Linked DNA regions of Homo sapiens. The protein of the gene in region 2 purifies or fractionates together with the protein of the main gene of each other region. This does not show direct contact. Each region holds a gene or a part of one and is shown on either strand. Other genes may lie near its edges. The genes, in order: IARS1, ASNS, GARS1 and AARS1.

Region 1 (7,027 bases), on a different chromosome or scaffold from region 2:
ATTCTGACATTAGTACCTGTGGCTATGCATAAAATAGAAATTTTTTTTTTTTTTTTTTTTTTTTTTGTGACAGGGTCTCGCTCTGTCACCCAGGCTGGAGTGCAGTGATGTGATCTTGGCTCACTACAGCCTCCATCTCCTGGGCTCGGGCAATCCTCCCACCTCAGCCTCCCAAGTGGCGGAGATTAGGCATAGTAGTACAGGCTTTTGTAGAGATGGGGTTTTGCCATGTTGCCCGGGCTGGTCTCTAACTCCTGAGCTCAAGTGATCCTCCCACCTCGATCTCCCGAAGTGCTAAGATTACAAGTTTGCGCCACCACACCCAGCTGAAAAATTTTGAAATTAACTACTTCACTTAAAATGAGATTAATTAATGTAGCTAAATATAATGGCAAAACTAAACATTCCGTATTATTTGCTTCAAGCTGTTCTCATTTTCCCATCCGCTACTGTGCCATCACCATCCCTGCCGCATCAGTAATCCTCAGTAGCATGACTGAAGCATGAAGTGTTCTGTTTAACTGATCTTCTGCTTAGTTAATAGTTAACCTTGTGGTACTCTGCAATTGCTTGCACAAAGGTTACCTCTGAGGGATGAGGTTTATATTTCTGGGTCTGGAGTCCTTTTTCTGTTATGCTCAACTGTCTTGATAGATCTTCATAACAAGCATTTTCTTCTTACCATACAAATCACTGGTTTTTAAGCATATTTATAGAATGGTACAACTATCACCATAGTTTTAGAACATTTTCCTCGTCCCAGAAAGAAAGCCAGTATTCATTAACATTCACAAACCATTTTCCCCTCAATATCTGACCATTTCCTGGCATCCACGAACCTATTTGCTATCTCTGGATTTGCCTTCTCTGGACATTTCATATAAGTGGAATCATACAATTTGTAATCTTTATGTCTGGCGTGTTTCACCTAGCATAATGTTTCACATTAATTTATGTTGTAGCACATATGAGTGCTTCAGTCCTTCATATTGCCAAATACTCTATTGCATGTGTATGCTGCATTTTGTTTATCCATTCACAGTTGATGGACACTTGAAGTGTTCTTGCTTTCTGGCAGTTAGGAATAATGCTGCTGTGGACCTACATTTTTGTGTGAACATATGTTTTCATTTCTCATTTTTGTTTCCTCTTGTGCATTAACTGTAGGAACTCAATGTTCGAAAAGTTACACTGTCTACAGATAAAAACAAGTATGGCATTCGGCTAAGGGCAGAACCAGATCACATGGTCCTGGGGAAGCGTCTGAAGGGAGCCTTTAAGGCAGTGATGACGTCCATCAAGCAGTTGAGCAGTGAGGAGCTGGAGCAGTTCCAGAAGACTGGTAGGTGTCTACACAGACAAGGGCACCATTTATGTCCTGAGTCTGAGGGATACTTTTTAGGCTACTGTTTGACTTTTAATATCACATCCTTTCCTTTCCTGTCCTGTCGTGTCCCGTCGTGTCCTGTCCTTTCCTTTCCTTTCCTTACTCTCTTCTCTTTTCTCTCTTCTCTCTTCTCTTTTCTTGACAGAATCTCGCTCTGTCATCCATCCTGGAGCACAGTGGCGCGATCTTGGCTCACTGCAACCTCTGCCTCCCAGGTTCAAGTGATTCTCCTGCCTCAGCCTCCCAAGTAGCTGGGATTACAGGCACGTAGTACCATGCCTGGCTAATTTTTGTATTTTTGGTAGAAACAGGGTTTCACCATGTTGGCCAGGCTGGTCTCTAACTCCTGACCTCAGGTGATCCACCCGCCTTCGGTCCCCCAAATTGCTGGGATTACAGGTGTGTGCCACTGCACCGGTCCATCCTTTTCTTAAGTAAAACTTTTTTTCCTGTTGATAAAAATGTTTATTATAAATAATTCTTACAGTTTAGAAAGAAAATAGCTGGGCACAGAGGCTCACATCTGTAATCCCAGCGGCTCACATCTGTAATCCCAGCATTTTGGGAGGCCCAGTTGGATAGATCACTTGAGATCACTACAGGCACATACTACCACACTTAGCCAGATGTGGTGGTATGTGCCTGCCATCCCAGTTACTCTGGAGGCTGAGGTGGGAGGATCCCTGGAGCCTAGGGTGATTTTGTCCTTACTTTCATGGTGCTTGCTGACATTGAAGATTTGGGAAAATAATTATGGTTTTGATAAGTGTTATAAAGGGAAGGTGTAGGGTAACATAAAAACATGTGGGGGTACCTAACCAAATGATGGGATTAGGAAAGGGAAATCAGCCCCATCTTGCTACCCCTATACAGAGCATTTCAGGGTGCCCAGAAATTTGCAGCTCTGCCATGATTAGAATCATACATGGTCTGAGTGTGGCTGTCTGACATCCTGTAACTATCCTGGGGCACAAGCTGTTTATTGTTACGGCTTCCTCTGAAGTTGAAAATCATAAGCTAGGAGATGTCTTGAGAAGAGAGATTTGAGGATTCATAAATCAGATGGGGGAACTGTCCCTAAGATTCTCCAAATATTTAGATAGAATTAATAAAACATAAGACATCAGCAGCTAAACCTCAAGTTATTACTAATTACTAATCAACTCAAAATATTAAAATAACAAAGTGTTACGAGCCTTCAAGCCACAAATCTAAATTGTTCGCCAGATAGCCAAAGCATCAAAAATTCCTGAGATGGCTGGGGGTGGTGACTCATGCCTGTAATCCCAGCACTTTGGGAGGCCGAGGCGGGCAGATCACGAAATCAGGAGATTGAGACTGTCCTGGCTAACACGGTGAAACCCCGTCTCTGCTAAAAACACACACACACACACAAAATTAGCCAGGTGTGGTGGCAGGCGCCTGTAGTTCCAGCTACTCAGGAGACTGAGGCCGGGGAATGGCGTGAACCCAGGAGGCAGAGCTTGCAGTGAGCCGAGATCCTGCCACTGCACTGCAGCCTGGGTGACAAAGCAAGACTCTGTCTCAAAAAAAAAAAAAAAATTCCTGGGCTAAACCTTATTTGAAATTGAAAGCCTAGTTTCTGAGCGTACTGTTCTGCACTGATGGAAAACAAGATCATCTTCAGAACACAGAGACAAAGTAAACATAAAAATGACACCCGGGTGCTCAGAGCCCAAGAAGGTCATCATCAGTGACAACAGTGGGCCTCCCTATCAGCGGGGGTGTTAACATCAGCAGCTGTTCACATTTCTGCCTCCCCTGAACAGGCATGATGCTCAGTACTACACACTGCCCGTCTCATTTTAGCCTCACCACACCTTGCTCAGCAGGTAGCAGAACACCATGTCATACAACCAGCAAATAGTGGACCTAAGTTCACTTTCTCTTTAAAGACTGTATTTTCTTCATGACATCCTGCTGCTCTGTGTTTATGGTGAGCATTTGTTGCCTCTTGGTGCCTTCCCTTAGCTTTGTCATGTCTTTGGACCTGAGAGTTTATATAAAACAGTAGATACTGGTGATGACTTAACTGTCTTCAAGGTAGCATAGTGTAATCTAAAGAAAGTTTGTCATGTCTTGGCTACAACCATGACATGAGTCAGAGGGAAATGATCTCTTGAAGCCTCTGTGGCTTTGTTATTGTGAAATTTTAATCAAGAAGGGGCATAATACACGGGTAGTGGGGCAGCTTGAAGAGGAGGGGAAGCTGATTAACAGTGTAGCTGCTTCTCCATAGGGACCATTGTTGTGGAAGGCCATGAATTGCACGATGAAGACATCCGCCTCATGTACACCTTTGATCAGGCCACAGGTGGGACTGCGCAATTTGAAGCACACTCAGATGCTCAGGTATTTTTCTGTTTCCTAGAACATTTCTTTACCAAGAGATGAGAGCATAAGAGGAGAAAGTATTTGCCTGTGCCTTTCCTGATAATGTTGACAGCTTGTCTCAGGGTAAAATAAACCAGTTACTTGGTTTAGATTGGCTTTATTAAACTAATATATTATTATGCCCTTAACATATGCATTTGTTTAGTGAATACATAAGTAAGCATTTTGTGATTTCTACATGTCAGTCATTGTCCCAAGTGTGGGGTTGCACAAAAATGAACCCTTCAAGGAATGAGTCAGTCAAGGACACCTGAAATTAAGCCAGTTCTTAGTATTCTACCTGATAAGTTATCTGGTAGAAATAAGTACACAGAGGGCTCCTATCCAAAAATAGGTGTAGGGTGAAAAGTGGTCAGGGAACACTCTTTTCAAGAGAATATACAAACTGTTTTAGATTCCAGGATCAATATTTTTTGCCATATTGGAGAAGAGACTATCTCTTTGCAGTCCTGACCAGACATCCCCAGTCAGCATAGTTGTAAGATCTCGCATGTGGGTTTGGGGATATTGCAGGGGTCCCTCTGTGCTTAGCATACCATGTGCAGGGGAAGGTAGAGCAGCACCTCCATGAAAGGAAGGTCGACCTCCTCAGTCCTTTACCCAGGCGCTTAAGTTAGATGTGTACAGAACTCTACGTGGGAAGACAGTGGCAAGGAGTCGGAGGTATCGTAGCTGGGAAAGAAGGCAGGGAGGAGGTTTCTAAACACTGACAGTGGGCAGTTCTTCCTCATTACAGCAGATGTTAGGGGCCTGAAAAGTTGTCCACCTTACAAAAGTGTCATGTGATGCTTCTGAGTTTCTTGACATGGCTTACATGTTGTAGTGGCCCTGCACTGACTGGAATTTTGAGTTTATCATGCATTTCACTACCTCTGATGCCTTTATGAAGTGAGTCATTTCTTAACTTCTCTGTTTACTCAAAGGTAAATGAGATGATGCCTAATGTACAAGTCTTTTGTAGAGTATATTTTACTCTGCAACATGCTGTGTAACAGAAGCGATAGTGTCATTATTGCTACATCATAATCAGCAACCTTCAGAATAGATGAGATAGAAACATTAACCTTAGCAAAAATATGGCAGTTTAAGTCACAGAAAGTTTTGTGGTCCATTGTAGAATTTGTCTTGAGTCGTTCTGACAAACCTGAAGATCACAGGGGTCATGGTATAGGAAAGTCACTTGGAGTTGACTGCGCTGAGGCCGTTGATCCACTTGTTGTGGCCTGAAAAGCTGTGCTGCTCCAAGGGCTTCATGATTATTGATCTTACTTATTAGAAGAGTTGATATTACTTCTTAGATGGCCAAAAAGCAGAGTCATGTGAGGGACTCTGATAAGAGGTGGTCCCAGGGCATCTCCTGTGAGCAGCACCCTACAAAAAAACAAGAAACAAAAACCTGCACACCTTTCTCCAGAGACAGAGGACTAGCTGATTATGAAGAAGTACCTGAATGATAAACTAGATTAATTTTATTGCTTTTGCTCATTTGTGTGAAAAAATAGTGCTGCATTATAGACTCTCCAGATTTAAATAACATTTTGCTGAGTTGGGAAGAAGTGTTTCTCCTTATTTGATTGTCATGGTGTGCACTGTTCATTCCCACAGGCTTTGGTCCTCTTAGATGTCACTCCTGACCAGTCAATGGTAGATGAAGGAATGGCTCGGGAAGTCATCAATCGCATACAGAAACTTCGCAAAAAGGTTAGTTTGTCAGTTAAGAATAAGCTACTGTTTTGGCTTTTTGTTTGTTTTGGTTGTTTGGAGAAGATAGGAGAGGCAGGTAATATAAACCATAGTGATCAATGCATAACAATCACTAATCCATAGTCCATTTGGAATGTATTCTGCAGAAAAGTCACTCCTCTTCCTCTCCCCACGTGTTCACTCCCAAGTCGTAGCTTTCAGCCAGCCTGTGCCTTTTCCCATCCTTTTTTTTAGCTCCGTTGGGCTTCTACAGAATATCCCCTGTGACTGGAGCAGAAGGTAATCAGAGCTGATAGTGTCTTTGCAGAAGGGCAGAGGTGCAGTCAGCATAGACAGGCTTCTAGCTTAGGGGAGATTCCCGGATTTGGACAGAGTTGGGTAGTTTTTCCTTATTAGAGAGCTGAGGAATATGCAGGGAGCTCATCCTGGAGCGCAGAGGGGCTGCAAAGCCCCTGCTAGTGAGAGAATCAGGAATTTCTTGCCCTGTAGAGGGCAGTGACAGCTAACATACATCTTTCTTCCCAGACGGTTCAAGGTCTGAGGAGGCTGTTCCAGCAGATGAGTGGGTGCTTGTGACCTCTGAATCAGTTCAGAGCTTTGTAAGTGGGTTCTAAGTAATTTCTTGGTTTCAACATTCATGAGGTACTGATTGTTCTAGGAAAAGAAACATGCCCTATCCCCCAAAGAGTGGTGAAAAAGACACAAAGTTAATCATGTACTGAGTGCAGTTAGTCTTACGGATCACCCAGCAGGGAGGGAAGGGTGACTGCCCTTCTGTGATGATTCAGCATGGGATCTGTAGCCCTTGTTCAACAGTACCTTCCTTCAGTTCTGATTAATAGAATGTACTTCCCTTTTAAATTTTTCTGTGTGTGTTTTCAGTGCAATCTGGTTCCAACTGATGAAATCACAGTGTACTATAAAGCAAAGTCTGAAGGAACATATCTGAATAGTGTTATTGAAAGCCACACAGAGTTCATATTTACCACCATAAAGGCTCCCTTGAAACCATATCCAGTTTCTCCATCGGATAAAGTCCTTATTCAAGAAAAAACACAGGTGAGTCCTGAGTTCCACTGAACTACTACTAAAGGGTTTCAGATTAGGTTTGACTTTGTGTACTCACGTGTTGATATTCTGTCCCACAGTAGAGATCGGCACAGCACTCTGTCTTGAAGTATTGCTCTGGACAGTAGTGGGTAGAGTCAGAGAGTGGAAGCTCAGAAAAGATGGAGCAGGGAGGGAAGATGGAACTGTTTTCACAACAGTTCTCTTGAGGAAGGTAGCCAGGAGGGTACATGAGCTTTGCCCGGAAATAAAATGGCCTGTTTTTTCTAAAACTAGAAAAGGCAGTGTGTGGATTCTGGTAATTATCATTAAAAGTAAATAGCAATTGGCTTGAAAAACATTTAACTCTTCTGGTAGTGGGTTCTCCATAAAAGTACAGTACAAAAAAAGAAAGATTACAATAGCATTTCTGTTGTTACATCTAGGAATTTTAGATATACTTATGAAAGTATG
Region 2 (7,027 bases):
CCTTCTCCAGAGAAGATCACCACGCTATCTGTGTTCTTCCGAATATACTTGGAAATTAAATACATACCTTAAATGAGAGAGAGAAATTAACTTTAATGTCAACATAACCTTCCACCAAAAATGCCTTTGATTTGATTTTTGGAAATAATTGAAAGCTTTACTACTATACTGGACTTCATATTAATATAAAGTAGTTTCCACAATAATGACCTTGTATTTATAAGCCATTTATATGTACTTAATCCAAAAGTACTACTGTAAAATAAAATAACCCGGAACCATTTTGTCATTTTCTAAACAGGTTTTAAAATTCTAATGTTTTTAGACCAAGAATGTCCACCTCAAAACTTTGCTAAGCTGAACAATGACTCAAATACCTAAAAATCATGCCTTTCATAGTGGTATTATGACACAAAAATAAGAATAACCGTTTTGGTGGTTTAGTGTTAATTTTGATGGGTATTTTCCCCCTGCCACTCCCCATTTACCAGATTTCACATAAAGCTGGGGAGACTATATAAGTTATTAAACTTGCCTCCTTGGTCCTGCACCACATCTCTCTAAACCAGTGTTTCTTCTCAACCTTGTTTTTATTATCACCTCAGCTAGAGAGCCTTTTTAGACACTTATTTTCCTAACCTCACCCCAGCCCCATGAAATTCCAATACCAGAGCTATCCTGTCTATCTGCTTATTTACTGTGATGTTTTGGAGGGCCATAAACCATTGTAATACCTAAGATATTTTTGCCTTCCAAGGCAAGTCTCTCAAGGGAGGCAGTAGCATATAAAGGCTCAATAACACTGGATCAGTCTGATTTGGGGTATACTTCCAATCTCAGTAGATACATTATCTACAAGATAAAATTAGTATTGTTTGCAGAGCAATGATAGCTAGTGACTGGTAAGTTGTGTGATGGAATATATCTAAAATGACTATTTCTTATCAAAAATGCATTACCAAAAAGACCTATTTCCTCACTGTATATAGACTGTAGCCCAAGAAACTATAAGAGAAATGGGAGGTAGAGGGCAGAAAATATGTATCTGCTCCCTGGGGAAACACCAACAGTGACACCAACAATGTGGAGGTTGAACTACGTATTTACTATTCCCTTCACTCCAAAAGAGATTCAGAGAATTCTTAAGTGGTCTTAAATAATCAGTAACATAGGGATTTAATTTGCATTCATCCTTAAATAACATTTTAAAACTATGGCTTGAAATAATTTTTTTAAACCTTACATTTTTTTCAGTATTAAAAAAAGCTTTTTATTTAAGAATATCATAATACCTTACCTACTGAAGCACGAACTGTTGTAATGTCATAAGTTTCCAAGGAAAATATGACTTCATCCAGAGCCTGAATGCCTTCCTCAGAGTTAAAAAGGACTTCATAATGTTCACTTCCAATATGATCTGCCACCTTATTATATAAAGAAATACCCATTTACTTGTTAAAGAAAATAACTTCCCTTGAAAATCAAACATGATGGGAGTTCACAAAGCTTTATGAATTAACAATGGTGAAAACTAAACAAGGGAAAAAAAGAAAAATGACTTTACAGCCCACCACATACAAGCCCCATCCAGCACTGTTCCCTCGCCTGCTTCAACTCCACCACCAGGAAGTAAGTCTCCCCTCAGCTCCTCTGGTGCCAAGGCTTCAACCATTCTCCCAGTTGGCACCTCCCTCTCTACCTATTTTACCTAACCCACCTCATCTCTCTCTAGTCCAACATGGTCCCACGCTAAGCTTGGTCTTTTTTGGTCCTTCTTAAATGCCTAATTTTATATCCAGGATGTTATTCTTATATAGAATGGCCCTTCCCCTCATTCTGCTTTCCTTGGCTATTTTGGATTCTCTCGGCATTGATTACCTTGCACTGAGACTGCTCTCTAGCTTTTTCTCATCCATGCTACGAAAGTCCTCCATAGTGGGAACTAGGTCTCCCGCTCACTGAATACAGACAAGCTGCCCTCTGCCCACAGTATTCTAAATACAGTACTTTCAAAAATAATAATAACAGCTAACACTCATTAAGTACTTACTACATGCTAAGTTCTACCCTACTTACTTTACATGAATTATATCATTTCACCTTAAAATTTCCCCATAGCAGACACTATTATTTTGGTTACATAAATGAGTAGAGCCAGGATTTCAAACCACAAGTCAGGTTCCAAAGTCTGCAGTCTTAGCCATGATACTATGCCTTTACGTTTAAAAAAAAAAAAAAAAAAAAACGAACAAAAAACCCGTTTTTTTAATTTTTCAAGATGGGGTCTTGCTACGTTGCCCAGCCTGGACTTGAACTCCTGAGCTCAGACCTCCCCCCACAGCCTCCCAAGTATCTGGGACTATAGGTGTGTGCCACTGCACCTGACTTATGCCTTTACTTTCTTTTTTTTTTGAGACAAGGTCTCACTCTGTCACCCAGGCTCCCATAAGGCTAAGACTACAGGCATGCGTCACCAAGCCTGGCTAGTTTTTGTATTTTTTTGTAGAGATGGAGTTTCATTATGTTGCTCAGGCTGGTTTCAAACTCCTGACCTCAGGTAATCTACCTCCCTCAGCCTCGTAAAGTGCTGGGATTACAGGTGTAGGCCACCATGCCCAGACACCTTTACTTTCAAAAGAGCATACTTATCATCATAGGGTCTTTGTGAGAATTGCATGGGTCATAACAGATAAAAGTACACAGAGGACAGTGTACAACACAGTGCATATCCAACAGCCATTTCATTCTATTTTAATACAATCAATTTAAAACAATTGACCCAGTCAATACAGCAGCAGTAGAATCACCCATTATTGACTCCATTTTCATTCTAATAACAAGTCTACTCTAACTACACTACACAAGGGACAGAGACAGCACCTTACCTTTCTAGCAGCCAGTAAATCGGGGCTGTCTTCCATGCCAATTGCAAATGTCTGGAGAGGATACTGTACTTGGGCTTCTTTCAGCTGCTTCAACAGAGTGGCAGCAACCAAGCTGGAGTCCAAGCCCCCTACATGCAAAAGAGGAAGTGGAAGTGTCCTAGTTATGTGCCTTGCATAAGACAGGGACAGAAGATGTATATTCCTGATAAACACCAAGATCATAGTTTTACTATTTAAAATCCGCCAAGTTTTATAAACTGAAATCAACTTCAACAAGAGAAAAATATATAAACTGTGATAATAGTAGTATTTGAATTGGTTAAAAATCACTACACAGAATTCTAAAGAACATTCACTGACTCACTCTTAACACCAATAACATAGCTATAGTGTAACTCAAGTTGGAGTATGACTATGACTATTAAATACAGCTTATAAAAAATCATTTCCATCCTATAATGAAGGAAAGAGTAAATCATACAGTAAATATTTTATAGTAAAAACCAAAGGGATGGCTACAAATCATTTCAATTAAACACACATGAAATATAATTAGGTTTTTTTAATTGACTTCACCTGATAAAAGGCAGCCAATCCTTCTGTCTGTCATCAAACGTTTCTTTACAGCATTATTAAAAAGGATCCTGAGGTTGTTCTTCACAGTTTCTATCTCAAAACCTATAAACACAGCAGTAAATCAAACAGCTCCAGAAAATCTTGGGCTGGATTAGTTATTGAAATGAAATACACAATCATCAACATCTATCATGATGGTATTTACTCAATGGTGGAGTGTGCCAAATCTTAATGTGTTCCCTCCAAACAAAATAGGAAGTAGGTCTTGAAACTAAAATCATTCAAATGATGGGAGAATACAACTTAAAATTTTTTTCCCTTGGAGAAGGATGGGGAATAGGTGGGTGGGTGTCTGCTACCTGGAAAGAGTTTCTCCACATTGTCATAGAGGGCGTGCAGGGGTACATCCCGACAGTGATGATATTTAACCATTTCCACGGATGCAACTTTGCCATTTGGCTTTAAATCCAAAACTTCATAGTGTCCAGGAAGAAAAGGCTCCACTTTTAAAAAGGGAGTCGCGGAGTGCTTCAATGTAACAAGACCTAGAAATTCACAATGATACCTTTATTCAAATTAGGTAACCCTTCCCAATAACTTTCACGATTAGTTAACATCATCTACATTCCTATTTTCCCTTTTTAATACAAACACATACCCATTAAATAAGCAAAATAGGAAAAAAAATTTTCTATTTTCCTAAGCCCTACCATCTACTTACCTGAGAGACAATAATGGCACAGGGATATACTGCCAAATTACACTAACTTTTCGTAATTCAAAGAAATAGAAAAATCTCCAGTGTTCAATTTCTTCTTCTTAGATTTCTAATCAAGAAAACCTATTTTCTATACTAAAGCAAATACACAAAAGGAAAAGACACACTTATGAAGCAAAGGGATGAACTGGAGTCCTAATGTTATGATAGGCTGGGAGTCATTTATTTGTCATCACTGAGGTATTTTCAGAACACAGCCATGGTTCCCAGACCTTTAACAAGTACAATGATCCACTTTTACCTACTTTAAAGTCAGATAAGAAGACATCTATCCCTTAACTAGTTGTTATACACTATATGTGAATAAAACCATATAACTTAAATTTCCTCAATAAATTCTCACAGACAGTACAGTACCCAACCTCTCATCACCATGATCTTTGATACAAACATCAATGTTTTATTGTAGATCGTAATGGACTATCTACATGGAATACTCGTGATTTACAATTTGAGATTGTCTACCCAGCCAGTAACCTGTGTAGCACTGAATTCAAATACCAGAAAAAGGACCCAGATTCCCTCACCAGCCAGCAGAGCTCAAGTGAGCTACACAACCCGGATAGGGAATGGGGAGTAATTAAAAGGTTTTAAGCAGGCAATACTATAATCAGATGAGATTTTGACAGGTTATTCTAAAAGCACTGAGAAAAGAAAATTGTTGCAGTATTCCAGATGAGATAATTTGGTCTGGAAAAGGACAGTGTCAAGGATATAGAAAAGAACAATTAAGGAATTTCAGAGGGTAAGTTCCATATCAAGTGATCATCAGGCTCAAAGAAGGCCCAGGGGAGCAGGAGGCTGCTTTTCCCCAGTGTTCTCTTTACCAGGCTTTCCCAGCAGTCCTGGCAACTGACATATATATATGCTTGTTCTTTGCCATCTGATCACACTAGAAATGCCTGAAAATAAGCCAGTTCCAGTATTAGTACAAACACTGTGACTAGTGTCCTAAGGACCCCTTTGATTGATCTCATTATCCCTGCTTCAGCCAATATTAAATCTGAAAATTAAGTGAGAAAGAATTTAAAGAATGGCAAAAAGAGGCAGGGAGAGAGATATTAGGATGTTACTGCTGCACAGGTAAGGGATAAAAGATAAATGTCTTCCTCAAGTTTACCATCAAAAAGTGCTATGCATGATTTGCAAGTATTTTCTTCCAACTTGTGGGCCGTCTTTTCACTTTCTTGATGGTGTCCTTTGATGTGCAAAAATGTTTAATTTTGATGAAGTCCAATTCATTGATTTTTATTATTGTTGCTGGTCTCATATTTAAGAAAGCTTTGCCAAATCCAGGGTCATGACAATTTACTTCTATGTTTGCTTCTCGGGATTTTATAGTTTTAGCCCTTACATTTAAGTGGATTAGTTCAAAACTGATTCATTTGATCCTTTTTTTTTTTTTTTTTGAGATGAGTCTCGCTCTGTCACTCAGGCTGGAGTGCAGTTGCGCGATCTCGGCTTACCGCAAGCTCCGTCTCCCGGGTTCACGCCATTCTCCTGCCTCAGCCTCCTGAGTAGCTGGGACTACAGGCGCCCGCCACCACGCCCGGCTAATTTTTAGTAGAGACGGGGTTTCACTGTGTTAGCCAGGATGGTCTCGATCTCCTGACCTCGTGATCCACCCGCCTCGGCCTCCCAAAGTGCTGGGATTACAGGCATAAGCCATCGCGCCTGGCCTGATCCATTTTTCTGTATCCATAATTTTTGTATACGATGTTGGGTAAAGATTCAACTCCAAGTTTTGCATATGGTTACATATCTGGTTGCCCCTGTGCCAGTTTTCAAACTTCTTTCTCCACTGAATAATCTTGGCACCCTTGTCAAAAATAAGTTGATCATATATGTATGGGTTCATTTCTGACTCTCAATTCTATCCCACTAGTCTATACATCTATCCTTCTGTCAGTATTATATTGTCCTTATTACCATTGTCTTGTAGTAAGTTTTAAAATCAGTTAATATGAGGTCTCCTACTTTGTTCTTCATTTTCAAAAGATTGTTTTGGCTATTCTTAGTCTCTTGCAATTCCATATGAATTTGAGAGTCAGCTTGTAGATTTCACAAAGAACTCATCTGGGATTCTGATAGGGATCAAGTTAAATCTGTAAATCAGTTTAGGGAGGACTGCCATCTTAACAATGTTAAGCCTTCAAATCATGATCATGGGATACTTTTCCATTTATTTAGATCTCCTCTCATTTCTTTCAACAACATTTTATAGTTTTCAGAGTACAAGTTTTACACTTCTTAAATTTATTTCTAAGTATTTTATTCTTTTTGATGCTATTATAAATGAAGTTGCTTTCTTAATTTCATTTTGATTGCTCATTTTAAGTATGTAGTATTCAGTTAAAGTGTGTCAAATACCATTGATTTTTGTATATTCATCTTGTATCCTGCAACCCTGATGAACAGAAGGGATTTGTATCTAGAATACATAAGGAACTATTACAATTCAGTAATAAAAAGACAAAATAACTCAATTAGAAATGGGTAATTCAAGAATGGATAAACAAATTGCATTGCATGCAAACAAATGGAATATTATTCAGCAAGCACACCAACATGGCACATGTATACATATGTAACAAACCTGCACGTTATGCACATGTACCCTAGAACTTAAAGTATAATAATAATAATAATAAATGAGCTATCAAGCCATGAAAAAACACAGAAGAACTATAAATGTATACTGCTAGGTGAAAGAAGCCAGTCTGAAAAAGCTACATACTATATGATTACAACTATTATACGACATTCTGGGAAAGGCAAAGTGAGAGAG
Region 3 (7,027 bases), about 67 Mb from region 2:
AGGCCTGCTGGTAAAAACACAAGGGTTCTCATTACTGTCCCAACAAATGTACAAATGAACCAGCATGCCATCTTACAGAAGTAATTTTACAATCCAATACCCACACTATTTTCAAAATAAATTTGGACATTTGTGTTGATGAAGATCAGTTTAAAAGAAGTTTAATGTTTCTGTTTCATATGGCAATATAAAATATTATCCCCCTCAAAATCACTGGCTGCCATGTATTTGTGTCCTGAGATATGCCCATTCAGTTTCAGGTTATAAGAATTCATCTTTATAAAGAGCTTCATGTAATACCTGTATTTCAGCTTAGGAGGTATTTCCTCACATTTTGAATATCCATTTGGATTTCTCCTCCCTCCCAAGCAATTCAGTGCTAGGATAGAGAGCCCTCATGTGGTTGTCTCAGAAGCTGGATAGTTGGCATATGTTATAACTGTATTTTGCTAGTTTCCACCTGTGATAATCTCATGCCTCATCTGACTGGTGTTCACTGAATTCTTCCGTTTTTACTATTCTGTCTGAAGTCTGTGTGTGCATGCATTCAAGGTTCCATTACATACACAGTGTCACATGCATTCTCTCTGTGAGCACAGTCTAAGTGTATCATAGTTAACAGCTATAAAAGAGTTGCAATTGGGTCAGGCGAGGTGGCTCACACCTGTAATCCCAGCACTTTGGGAGGTCAAGGTAGGTGGATCACCTGAGGTCAGGAGTTCAAGACCAGCCTGGTCAACAAGGTGAAACCCCGTCTCTACTAAAAATACAAAAAATTAGCTAGGCGTGGTGGTGCACACCTGTAGTCCCAGCTACTCGGGAGGCTGAGGCAGGAGAATTGCTTGAACCTGGGAAGCAGAGGTTGCAGTGAGCTGAGATCACGCCACTGCACTCCAGCCTAGGTGACAGAGTGAGACTCCATCTCAAAAAAAAAAGAGTTGTAATTGACAAGGAGACAGCCATTATTTGAGAATAATTAATAAAGCAAACTGTGTTTATGGATAATGATATTTAACTAGTAATATAACTTAGTCCATTTTAATGGGATTTGATATTGTTTTAGTATAAATAGATGTTAATTCTGGAAGACGAGAAATGTTTTTAAATTTTTCTGAAACAGGTATCTTCAACTTGCAAGAGTTCATCTTTGTCCCATCTGTTCTTTGTTCCTTTTCCTTTTCTCCCATCTTCTTGTGGAATATTTTTTCTTATTCTACTTTATCTCCACTATTGGTTTATTAGTTACACCCCTTTTTTGTGTGTGTTTTTTTTCCAGGTGATTGCTCTAGAGTTCATTCTATCCATTTTTTAACTTATCATAGTTTATCTTCAAGTAATATTACACCATTTCACATATAATGTATACACCTCACAAGAGTATATTCCCAATTCTTTGCTCCCACCCTTTGTGCTACTGATAGCATACATTTTACTTCCATGTTATAAATTCCATATTACTTTAAATACTCCATTATCTTTTAAAGAAATTAAGAGATGACAGAGAAAATGCCATTTCTATTTACCCACATATTTATCATTTCTAGATCTCTCAAGTCCTCTGGGTACATCTAAACTTTCATACTTCTGCCTGAAGAAGTGCCTTTAACAATTCTCATAGTGGAGGTCTGCTGGCAATGCACTCTCAGAGCCCCGGATTGTCTAAAACAGAGGTGTTCAATCTTTTGGCTTCCCTGGGCCACACTAGAAAGAACTGTCTCGGACTGCACATAAAATACACTAACACTAACCACAGCTGATGAGCTAAGAAAAAAAAAATGCAAAAAAACCTCATAATGTTTTTTGAAAGTTTACGAATTTGTGTTGGGCAGCATCAAAAGCCATCCTGGGCCACATGCAGCCTGCAGGCCGCAGGTTGAACAAGCTTGGTCTTAAAGTACTTCCTCTTCATTTTTGAAAGATATTTTTGCTGGGTGTAGGAATTTTGTCTTAAAGCACTTTAAAAGATTTCATTCCATTATATTGTGATCCGCGCAGTTTTTGATATGAATTCTAATCATTCTTATCTTTGTTTGCTTTTATGTGATGAGTCTTTTTCCCCACTAGCTGCTTTAAAGGTTCTTCTCTTCATCCCTGGTTTTTAGCTATTTGATTCTCACGGGTCTTCATGTGGTCATCTTCGTGTTTATCCTGCTTGGGGCTAAGCTTCTTGAATCTGTAGTTTTAGCGTTTTCATCAAATTTGTAAATTTTCTAGCTACTGTATAATATTTTTTCTATACACCCTCTCTAGGACTCTCAATTACACATGCATTAGACTGCCTGATATTGTCCCACTGGACATCTTTTTCCCAGTCTCATTTTTTTCTATGCTTCATTTTGGATAGTTGCTATGTCTTTAAGTTCAATGACCTTTCTTCTGTAATGTTTAATCTACTGTTAATCCCATCCAGTGACATTTTCATTTGAGATATTGCCTCTAAATGTTTCATGTTGTTTATATATATAAAAAACATGTGTTTATATCCATATTACACATATATTTTTCCATTTCTCACCTCACATGTTAATGTTTTCCTTTACACCCTTGAGTACATGAAGCATATTTATAATAAGTGCTTTAACATCCTTATGTACTTACTGCATCATGTTTGTTTTTTCTGGGTGTTTCTTTTGACTGACTTTACTTCTCATTTTCCTGCTTTTTCATATATATAATAATTTTTATTGTTTGCTGGATATTGTAAGTTTTACACTGTTCAGTGCTGGATTTTGTTGTATTTCTTTAAAGGCTTTTCTCTATTTTTTTTTTTTGTTTTTTTTTTTTTGAGACGGAGTCTCACTCTGTTGCCCAGGCTGGAGTGCAGTGGCACGATGGTGGCTCACTGCAAGCTCCGCCTCCCAGGTTCACGCCATTCTCCTGCCTCAGCCTCCTGAGTAGCTGGGACTACAGGCGCCCGCCACCATGCCCGGACAATTTTTTTGTATTTTTAGTAGAGACGGGGTTTCACTGTGTTAGCCAGGATGGTCTCGATCTCCTGACCTCGTGATCTGCCCACCTCAGCCTCCCAAAGTGCTGGGATTACAGCCATGAGCCACTGTGCCCGGCCTTCTCTATTGTTTATATTCATGCTTAAACAATTACAGAGAGTATTCTAAACCTCCAAAAAGGAGAGAGAAGTGACCTGAGAGATAGTAGATGTAGTTTCTAACCCTTCCTTCCTCAGCCTGGCTGGACAAGTCTCTTTGTTTAAGACAGTTACTAGGAAAAAAAAAAAGTATATTCTATTTCAAATCTTTTTTCAGGCTATAATGCCAAAATCTCGGCAAAGACAGTCTTTTAAATGCAGCCAAGATACAGTACTTACCTGCAAAAAATCTTAAGAAATTAATCTCATCCTTTCAGAACCTGGCAGATGACACAACTGACTGGAGCCCATGGAAGAGTAAACATCTGATATCTTACCCTTTCTCATTCAGCAGCATCTCCATTTCTGTAATGTAGCACTCATCACAAATGGCAAGATACTCCATCACCAGTTTTGCATCCTTCTTATATGCCTTACCAATTGCTCCCTTACTGGGTTCAAACTGAACAACATTGACTGTTTTGTATGAAGTAGTCAAGGAATCCAAAACTACAGCACTGCCTCAGTATTTCAGAAAATGAGCCTGAGAACAATCAATCATCAACTTAAAACCATGCCAGCTCTCTATCAGTACTCCAGATCCTGTTTATGCTGATTTTAAGGCAAGATGAAACACCTGTCCACAAAATCATTCAGACAACTCTCATCCAAAATTAACACCATCAATAGAAACTTTTCCAGTTACAGTGAGAAAAAAGAGATATTATCTAATCAGCAATGACCCAACCCATAGCATAAGAACTTCTGATAAGTATTTCTAAAATGCTCAAAACAAGATCTATTTCCTGTCACTGACCTACCCCTAAGAAATCAGCTCATAACTTCACTGCCTACTAAAGAAAGAAAATTTCTATTTTGCTGATTTTCAGACCAAGTGAGCTAAATTATTATTTCAGCTACTATCAAATGGCACTCATCTTTTAATGGAAAAAGCTTTCACCAGGTACCCTTTATTTAAAGAGCACGTAGGTAGGTGCAGGTGTGAAGTGCGTTTTGGAAACAGCTGAGAAAAACTATTAACGTTCTGAAAGATATTCAGAGCATTTTTCTAAATATGCTTCTTTTAAAGGCCAAACATTGAGTGGGCACACGTCAGACTACAAGTACAGAGAATAGGAAAGGAACAAAGGGATAGGTAAAATAATAGGTTTAAACAAGCGTTACTACAGTGTCTAAAACATCTCCATTTATCCATAGAACAAGGTAAAGACTTGGACTTATTCATTAGCAAGATGTTCACATGTGAATCCTGAGTTTTTGGAGTGACCAGAAAGGATATGGGTTCTTTCAGAGGTTTCTCAGCTACAAGTGGGACTTTGGTGGCTCGTGCATGACAGGAGAGGTCATAACAGGAACGATCAGCACATCCAACAATCTCAATCCAACCCTAAAAAGATATAATCAATAAAAACATTACTTACTTATTATTACTTATATTGGGTTCATTCACAAATGCATGCAGATTATAAACCTTTCATATATTCAATGATAATTCGATGATATAATCTTCATTCAAATTTCATAAATATTTGAAATGGGAATAGCCTCATATATCAGGCAGCTAATAAGCCTATAAAATATAATTCACACTGATCTGGGTGTGATGGCTCATGCCTGTAATCCCAGGTACTTGGGACGCTGAGGTGGAAGGATCACTTGAGGCCAGGAGTTTGAGACCAATCTGGGCAACACAGTGAGACCCTATCTTAAAAAAAAAAAAAAAAAGAAAGAAAAAAATATATAATTCACACTGTACACAAAGTAGTCTTCCTTTCTGGATGGATTTATATTGTTATACTGAGTCTGTGGGGTAAACTAACATATTCTGGAATTTAATTATGGAAATTAAATGTGAACCTAGACAAAGCCTGTAAATTTGGTTCAAATTTGTGAACAGAAATCAAAATGAATTTGGCAGAAACCACTATTCTTTAGATGAAGTACCTAGTGTTCTCACAACTTGATATCAGATGGCTGACTAAACACATACTTCAGCTGGCCATAAATGTGGGCATTTGGATTCAATTCACTTTCTTCACTGAACAAAAGAAAACTCAGTATAAGAGTGGGTAAAGTTCAGGTCACACAATAAAATTATATAAGAGCATTATGATCACATTGATGCCAGGTTCCCTTTCTTATAAATACACACATAAGATACTTTTAAAAAGCAAAATTTAAATTATTTTCAAAGAACCTGCAATGAATTGAATGCTTGTGTCCTTGACAAAATTCGTATATTGAAATCCTAACTCCCAATGTGATGGTATTAGGAGGAGGTGCCTTTGGGAGGTGATTAGGTCATGAGGATGGAGCCCTAATCACTGGAATTTGGGACCCCAGAGAGCTCTCTTGCCCTCTTTCACCATGTGAGGATACAACAAGAAGTTGGCAGTATGCGACTGAGAATGGGGCCCTCACAAGGATCAGACGATGCTGGCACCCTGATCTCTCAATTCCAGCCTCCAGAACGGTGAGAAATCAATGTCCATTGTTTATAAGCCACTCTGTATGTGGTGCTTTCTTATAGAAACCCCAACTATGACAAACTCTTAAGAACCCGTTATTTCAATAAGAACAAGAGTTTGTAAAGAGCTTATTTTGGTAGATACCTAGTTAGTCCTTCTCAAGAAGATTCATTTTTTTTTTTTGCCCTTGATCCAAAGAGTTTGGGGAAATTCAACCATCAAAACTACTAAGCTTGGCCAGACACAGTGGTTCGTGTCTCTAATCCCAGCACTTTGGGAGGCTAAGGCGGGTGGATCACCTGAGGTCAGAAGTTCAAGACCAGCCTGGCTAACACGGAGAAATCCTGTCTTCATGAAAATACAAAAATTAGCTGGGTGCAGTGCCATGTATCTGTAATCCCAGCTATTTGGGAGGCCGAGGCAGGAGAATCGCTTGAACCCAGGAGGCAGAGGCTGCAGTGAGCTGAGAGTGCACCACTGCACTCCAGCCTGGGTGACAGAGTAAGACTCTGTCTCAAAAAAAAAAAAAAAAAAAGAAAAAAAGAAAAAACTACTAAGCTTTCCAAGCACATGTTATCACATGGGGTGTCTGTAATAAAGCAAGCAAATATAAAACTCATATGAGCTCAGAAACTCCAACACAAAACAACAACAAAAGGAATTAAAGAACAAAGCCTAAAAACATGTAACCTGGCAATCTGACATTCCCTATACATGTCGACTGGTTAAGTATACTTATGTTCTTAACCATATAGTTTGGTGGTTATAATTTACTGCAGATGTCAACTAACATTTATGTACTGAAAGGTAAAATTACAAAAACGTGCCTGAGAATAACAACATTGGGATAGTGGTTACTTCTCTGGATGGAAAGAGAATTGGTGTGGCATTAACTGCAACGGTAAATTTTTTTATTAAAAAAATATATAAAGTACACAAAAAGTATTAAACTCTCTAAGGGAGTTCTCCCCTCTCCTTAAGAGCCTCTGGGACTCTGGAGCTTCTTGTTTCATTTAGCCCTGTTTTCCAGTGACTTTCCATTTTCTGATCCCTAACCCTCACAATGGCACTTAGATAAGGACGAGCAGGCATCCAGTGGGGTTTATAAAGCAGTACAGCATAACTGTTAAGAGCATGAGTCTGGTGTCAGACAGCCAGGTTTATATCCCAGCCTCACCACTCACTGGCTGTGAGACTTAAGCAAATTACTTAACTGAGACAGCAAGAACAACATCTGGTTTAATCTGAAATCAGAATCAGAGCAAACTAAGAGAAGGAGCTGGGTATGAAACAAAAAGAAAAGTAATAATCTTTTCTCATACAAAAGGAAAAACATTTTATTGGTTTGATCTGAAAATAAAAAGAAGTCCCAGAAAATCTAAAAAGTGTAAAGAAATTAATGATCACCCATAATCCTAAAAATAATTACTATTATCATTTTGACATATGTCAA
Region 4 (7,027 bases), on a different chromosome or scaffold from region 2:
CCCTCTCCCCTCCACCAACCACCACCACTGCCCCCGGCAAAAGCACAGATGGAGAATCACTGCTTTAAACAAACTTTTTTTTTTTTTGAGACGGAGTCTCGCTCTGTTTCCCAGGCTAGAGTGCAATGGCGCAATCTCGGCTCACTGCAAGCTCCACCTCCCGGGTTCACACCATTCTCCTGCCTCAGCCTCCTGAGTAGCTGGGACTACAGGTGCCCGCCACCACGCCCGGCTAATTTTTTCTATTTTTAGTAGAGACAGGGTTAGCCAGGATGGTCTCAATCTCCTGACCTCGTGATCCGCCCGCCTCGGCCTCCCAAAGTGCTGGGATTACAGGCGTGAGCTACCGTGCCCAGCCTGCTTTAAGCAAATCTACGTGCAGGACGAATCTGATACAACAGAGTGAGAGCACCGCACTGCTAAGACTGTGGACAGACAGTGACGGTGTGGGGAGGGGGGGCATTCAGCCGTCGCCCATCCTACCTTGGCTGCCTCAATCATCTCATTAGCAATCTCTTCAGCCTTCTTGATCTGTTGGGTGGACATGGCTCCCTTGGCAGTAAAGTCAAATCTGAGGCGGTCAGGAGCAACCAATGAGCCTTTCTGGTCAGCTTCCCCAAGCACTGAGCGCAGGGCGAAGTTCAGAATGTGCGTAGCTGTGTGGTTGCTCATGATGGGTCTTCGTCGGGGCTGGAAAGGGCAGAGGGGCTCATGGAGAGGTCTGTAATAGACTGCTAGTTATCTCCTCGTTATCTGCTCCCCCGAGTGCTACAATTTTTAGTTGGAAATATGGCTGTGCAGAATAAAGGTTACATTTCCCAGCTTCCCTATGGCTAAGTGTGTCCATGTGACTAAGTTCGGGTCAAAAGGTTTTGAACAGAAGTGATGTCTACCATTAAAGGGATGGGGCAGGTCCTCCCATTTCTTTTCCACCGCCTAGAACAGGAATTGCCAAATGACGGCCGATGGCTAAATCTAGCCTGTCATCTGTCTTTTCATTTTTAGAGACAGGGTCTTGCTCTGTCACCCAGGATAGAGTACAGCGGCGCGATTGTAGCTCAGTGCCACCTCAAACTCCTGGGCTCAAGTGATCCTCTTGCCTCAGCCTCCCAAGTAGCTGGGACTACAGGCACACACCACTACCCCCAACTAATATTTTTTATTTTTTTGTAGAGATGGGGTCTCATGTTGTTGCCCAGGCTGGGTCTCAAACTCTTGGCCTCAAGCAATCCTCCCACCTCAGCCTCCCCAAATGTATGTGTTTATAAATTTTTATAAACAGTTTTTTTTTTTTATAAGGAGTTTCGCTCTTGTTGCCCAGTCTGGAGTGCTATGGCATGATCTCGGCTCACTGCAGCCTCCATCTCCCGAGTTCAAGCGATTCTCCTGCCTCAGCCTCCTGAGTAGCTGGGATTACAGGCATGCACCACCACACCCGGCTAATTTTGTATTTTTAGTAGAGACAGGGTTTCTCCATGTTGGTCAGGCTGGTCTCGAACTCCCGACCTCAGGTGATCTGCTCGCCTCGGCCTCCCAAAGTGCCGGGATTACAGGCATGAGCCACTGTGCCCAGCCATAAACAGGTTTATTGGAACACAGCCACACCTGTTCATTTACATATGGTCAATGGCTGCTTGAACACTCCAACTATAGAGCTGAGTACTCATCACCAGGAACATGTGGTCAGCAAAGCCAAAAATATTTAGTATCCAGTTATTTACACAAAGTTTGCCAACCCCTGGCCTAGACAATGGATCTGATAGCTATCCTCTGAACCAGGAAATCAAAGGCAATGCCCCAGGAAAGAAGGTGGAGTGACAGGTGAGGAGAAACCAGGCCCTCTGACTGTGGGGCAGAGCCTCCGTATCAGCTTGAGCTTTTTAGAACATACACTGCTATCCTGGTTTTAAGCTACTCTTACTCTGGAGCTCTGTCACATGCCAGAGCCTACCTCTTCATTCTTCAGCATCCTTGGCTCCCAAAGAAGTAGGTGACGTTAGAAAAGCAATCCGTGAAAACAAGTCCACGGGATCTTAACTGAAATCACTGGTGAAATCACTGACTTGGGAACATATAGATTAACTCTTAGTTGCATCCCTCACAATCCACCAAATGCACCTAAATTAACCCCTGCGGTCTACTTACACTAGGGAGTGATAACAGTGACAGGACAATTTTTTTTTTGAGGCGGAGTCTCGCTCTGTTGCCCAGGCTGGTGTGCAGTGGCGGGATCTTGGCTCACTGCAAGCTCCCCCTCCCGGGTTCACGCCATTCTCCTGCCTCAGCCTCCCGAGTAGCTGGGACTATAGGCGCCTGCCACCACGCCCAGCTCATTTTTTATATTTTTAGTAGAGACGGGGTTTCACCGTGTTAGCCAGGATGGTCTCGATCTCCTGACCTCATGATCCACCCGCCTCGGCCTCCCAAAGTGCTGGGATTACAAGTGTGAGCCACCACACCCGGCCCAACAGTGACAGGACAATTTAAAGCCAGAGGAGAAGATAATTACTAACCAGATCCAATGGGGGCCACAGTAACCCAACTCACCTCATCAATAAACAGCCAGACCTGATCCCCCACTTTCAGGTCACCGTAGATGGTTCCAATGTGTAGCACATACCCTCCTCGGACCTGAGCATTCTTCACTGTAAACTCTGTTTTCTAAGAGGGGTCAAGGAAGAGACCAATAAATAAATCCTTAAAAACATACAAATTTTCTTATATTTTCAATATAAACTCGTGTATATAACTTCTCTTTACATATGTAAATTGCACACACACACATACTCCCTTAATATCATTAAATATGATTAAATAGGCCAGGTGCAGTGGCTCATGACTGTAATCCCAGCACTTTGGGAGGCTCAGGTGAGTAGATCACCTGAGGCCAGGAGTTCGAGACCAGCTTGGCCAACATGGTGAAATCCCATCTCTACTAAAAAAATACAAAAATTAGCCAGGCGTGAAGGCAAGTGCCTATAATTCCACCTACTCAGGAGGCAGAGGCAGGAGAATCGCTTGAACCCGGAAGGCAGAGGTTACAGTGAGCCAAGATCATGCCACTGCACTCCAGCCTTGGCTACAGAGCGAGACTCCATCTCAAAAAAAAAAAAAAAAAATTAAATATATTTGTGCACACACACAGACATAACCAATATTAAGGAGCATCTTAGAATTTTTTTTTTTTTTTTGAGACAGAGTCTCGCTCAGCCACCCAAGCTGGAGTGCAGTGGCGCAATCTCGGCTCACTGCAACCACCCTCTCCTGGGTTCAAGCGATTCTCCCCTCTCAGCTTCCCGAGCAGGTGGGATTACAGGCATCCACCACCATACCTGGCTAATTTTTGTATGTCAGTAGAGACAGGGTTTCACCATGTTGGCCAGGCTGGTCTTGAACTCCTGACCTCAGGCGATCCACCCGCCTTGGCCTCCCAAAGTGCTAGGATTATAGTCATGAGCCACCACACCCAGCCGCATCTTTGAGTATCTAAAAGCCTCCATAAGGAACCTGAAGCCTAGGGAGACAAAGTAACTCATTCAGCAGCGGCAGAGCTCGAGGCTGAGTTTTCTACAAGGACATCTCCCCTTCAGAGAGCTGCCTCTCCTTTTTAATGTGCAAAGCTTGTAGGAAACTTGTACCCTGGCTGCAAAAATACTCCTACGAGGGTACCCGATGGCCAGGAAAGCAACAGGTACAAGCAACAGCTCCCTCGGCTTCAGAAATACCATGGAACCCAACCCAAAGGTGTGTCAGGTCTGCTCCCAAGGCCTGGAGCACTGTGGGGCAAAAGCAGCTCCCCGGCTCCACGCCTGGCCCTCCTCGGCTAACAAGGAAGAACTGTTGGCTCACATCTTCACTGCTGTCATCCACCTTCACCAGGTAGCCTTCGTCATAGATCTGGCCTCCTTGCTCAGCATAGAAACAGGTCTTGTCCAGCACCACTCCACACTCCTGGCCTGTGGACACCTCTTCCACGAACATCTTCTCCCTGCGCAGAGCCATCACCGTAGCCACTGTGTTCTCAAATACTGCTCAAGGGAAATGCATAGAAAGGGGACAGTGGGGTCAATGACCTTTTCACTCCTTCTTGGCTGACTTTTGCTGGATTCTCTTTCGCAAACTCTTCTTAGCTCCTAATTGTCCAATTGTATTTTGGAAGCAAACTCATTAGACAATATGAAAGGGCTTCGCGGCCGGGCGCGGTGGCTCCCCCTATAATCCCAGCACTTTGGGAGGTCGAGGCAGGCGGATCACGGGGTCAAGAGATCGAGACCATCCTGGCTAACACGCTGAAACCCTGTCTCTACCAAAAATACAAAACATTAGCCGGGTGTGGTGGCGGGCACCTGTAGTCCCAGCTACTCAGGAGGCTGAGGCAGAAGAATGGCGTGAACCCAGGAGGCGGAGCTTGCAGTGAGCCGAGATTGTGCCACTCCACTCCAGCCTGGGTGACAAAGCAAGACTCGGTCTCAAAAAAAAAAAAAAAAAAAAAAAAAAAAAAACAACAACAACAAAGGGCTTCGCATGCTGGCTTTCCATCAAAGAATGCAACACTCTGTCGGGTGACCAACTGTCCCAATTTTTAGGACTGAGGGGTTTCCTGGGATGCAGGCTTCAGTGTTAAAACTGGGACAATGGGTTACCCTAACTCTGAGCTACTGAACAGAAACTTGGTGCATCAGATTAGTAGATCTTTAAGAGTAGTAATAAATTCCCTAGTCCAAGGTCAACTCACAAAGAATGTACTCATTTTGTAGGCTTGCTTGAATAGATTTAGGTGTAAGATTGTTCTCAGCCGGGCACGGTGGCTCACACCTGTCATCCTGGCACTTTGTGAGGCTGAGACGGGTGGATAACCTGAGCTCAGCAGTTTGAGACCAGCCTGGCCAACACGGTGAAACCCCGTGTCCACTACAATACAAAAATTAGCCAGGTGTGGTGGCACATGCCTGTAATCCCAGTTAATTGGGAGGCTGAGGCAGGAGAATCACTTCAAGCTGGGAGGCAGAAGTTGCAGTGAGCCGAGAATGCGCCACTGCACTCCAGCCTGGGTGACAGAGCGAAACTCCATCTCAAAAAAAAAAAAAAGATTGTTCTCTACCAGGGCAAAAAAGCTGCAAAAACATGTATTGCCAATTTATTTTTATGTTTTTTTTGAGACAGGGTCTCACTCTGTAGCCCAGGCTGGAGTGCAGTGGCACAAATATGGCTGACTGCAGCCTCTCAATCTCCCAGGCTCAAGTGATCCTCCTGCCTCAGCCCCACAAATAGCTGGGACTACAGGCATGCGCCACCACACCTAGCTAATTTTTGTATTTCTGGTAGAGACAGGGTTTCGCCATGTTGCCCAGACTGGTCTCAAACACCAGAGCTCAACTGATCAGCCCACCCTGGCATCCCGAAGTGCTGGGATTACAGGCATGAGTCATTGCACTGGCTTTGTTTCTTAACTTTAGAATACTATTATCCGGTCGGGCGAGATGGCTTACGCCTGTAATCCCAGCACTTTGGGAGGCCAAGGCAGGCAGATCATGAGGTCAGGAGTTTGAGACCTGCCTGGCAAACATGGTGAAACCCTGTCTCTACTAAAAACACAAAAATCAGCCGGGTGTGGTGGTGCGTGGCTGTAATCCCAGCTACTTGGGAGGCTGAGGCCGGAGAATCGCTTGAACCCAGGAGGTGGAGGTTGCAGTGAGCCGAGATCACACTATTGCACTCCAGCCTGGGCAACAGAGGGAGATTCCATCTCAGAAAAAAAAAAGAATGCTATTAGGATAATAGCATTCTAACAGCATTAGGATAATAGAATCCTAATAGCATTCTTTTTCTTTTTCCCCGAGACGGAATTTCACTCTTGTTGTCCAGGCTGGAGTGCAATGGCATGATCTTGGCTCACTGCAACCTCTGCCTCCCAGGTTCAGGCGATTCTCCTGCCTCAGCCTCCCGAGTAGCTGGGATTACAGGGGCACGCCACCACGCCCGGCTAATTTCCGTATTTTTAGTAGAGATGGGGTTTCATCATGTTGGTCAGGCTGGTCTCAAACTCCTGACCTTAGGTGATCCACCTGCCCCGGCCTCCCAAAGTGTTGGGATTACAGGTGTGAGGCACAGCGCCAGGCCCCTAATAGCATTCTGATAGTCACTGTGGATTGTATCAATGTCAATTGCCCAGTTTCCTGCATGATGTTACAATTAGGGGAAACTGGATAAAAGGGTGTGAGACCCTTCCTACAAATTTTTTTTTTTTACAACTTCCTGTGACAATAATTATTTCAAAATAGAGTTAAGAAAACCTCCAGCCAAGGGTGCCTATGTGTATAAAAGTGCATAGCGTGACTGTACGGCACTCCAGGAGAGGCTGTCAGCAGTCTGCTGGAGAGCTAATCTTGAGAAACAATCTTTCAAATACCCCCCAGATACGGGGCAGAATGCTCAGATGTGGAAGGAGCACAGCAACATACCATAGCTACCACTGGAGTCCAAATGGTAATTGTACTTTGGGGAATCATCTGTGACCTCCAGACCCCGTGCCCGGAGCTCTTCGATAGCGTAAATGTCCAGCATAATGAGGTCTTCCCCACCAGCTCCCTTGCCCTGTGATTTCAGCTGTCAGCAAGAGAAACAAGCATAAGTTACCGTAAAGTAGGAGAAAAGGGACTCCAAAGGACTGGAACTTGCTAAACTATGCCCAGCATAAACTGCCAGAACAGGGTTTTTCAATCCTGGCACTACTGACATTTGGGGCCAGATCATTCTCTGTTGTGGAAACTTCTCTTGCAGTGTGGGATGCTGAGGGGCACCCTGGCCTCTACCAAGTACGTGACAGCAGGATCTGCCCCTAGTTGTGAAAATCAAAAATGTCTTCAGACATTATCGCCAATTACTCCCTGGAAGGCAGACTCGCCCCCACTTGAGAACCACTGATCTAGGGGAAAAAGCACTTCAAAGACTTTAATGGAAGGAAACTCATGCTCAGTCTGCAGCCAAGTGGTGCTGGGTTGGAAGGTGTTGGGTTTCCTGTTCACTC

What was found.
Region 1: the proteins of ASNS (region 2) and IARS1 fractionate together in Homo sapiens (co-fractionation; 2 studies listed by BioGRID). This does not show direct contact.
Region 3: the proteins of ASNS (region 2) and GARS1 fractionate together in Homo sapiens (co-fractionation; 2 studies listed by BioGRID). This does not show direct contact.
Region 4: the proteins of ASNS (region 2) and AARS1 fractionate together in Homo sapiens (co-fractionation; 2 studies listed by BioGRID). This does not show direct contact.

What each region holds. Positions count from the first base shown.
Region 1 is NC_000009.12:92,241,692-92,248,718, reverse strand, and holds part of IARS1 (isoleucine--tRNA ligase, cytoplasmic), read left to right. Parts: intron 1-1,167; coding exon 1,168-1,342; intron 1,343-3,647; coding exon 3,648-3,760; intron 3,761-5,407; coding exon 5,408-5,503; intron 5,504-6,388; coding exon 6,389-6,565; intron 6,566-7,027. UniProt on the Homo sapiens protein: Catalyzes the specific attachment of an amino acid to its cognate tRNA in a 2 step reaction: the amino acid (AA) is first activated by ATP to form AA-AMP and then transferred to the acceptor end of the tRNA.
Region 2 is NC_000007.14:97,855,393-97,862,419, forward strand, and holds part of ASNS (asparagine synthetase [glutamine-hydrolyzing]), read right to left. Parts: intron 4,007-7,027; coding exon 3,821-4,006; intron 3,564-3,820; coding exon 3,462-3,563; intron 3,014-3,461; coding exon 2,886-3,013; intron 1,425-2,885; coding exon 1,298-1,424; intron 68-1,297; coding exon 1-67.
Region 3 is NC_000007.14:30,618,859-30,625,885, reverse strand, and holds part of GARS1 (glycine--tRNA ligase isoform 1 precursor), read right to left. Parts: intron 4,494-7,027; coding exon 4,386-4,493; intron 3,570-4,385; coding exon 3,424-3,569; intron 1-3,423. UniProt on the Homo sapiens protein: Catalyzes the ATP-dependent ligation of glycine to the 3'-end of its cognate tRNA, via the formation of an aminoacyl-adenylate intermediate (Gly-AMP).
Region 4 is NC_000016.10:70,258,497-70,265,523, forward strand, and holds part of AARS1 (alanine--tRNA ligase, cytoplasmic), read right to left. Parts: intron 6,607-7,027; coding exon 6,462-6,606; intron 4,029-6,461; coding exon 3,850-4,028; intron 2,662-3,849; coding exon 2,548-2,661; intron 691-2,547; coding exon 484-690; intron 1-483. UniProt on the Homo sapiens protein: Catalyzes the attachment of alanine to tRNA(Ala) in a two-step reaction: alanine is first activated by ATP to form Ala-AMP and then transferred to the acceptor end of tRNA(Ala). Also edits incorrectly charged tRNA(Ala) via its editing domain.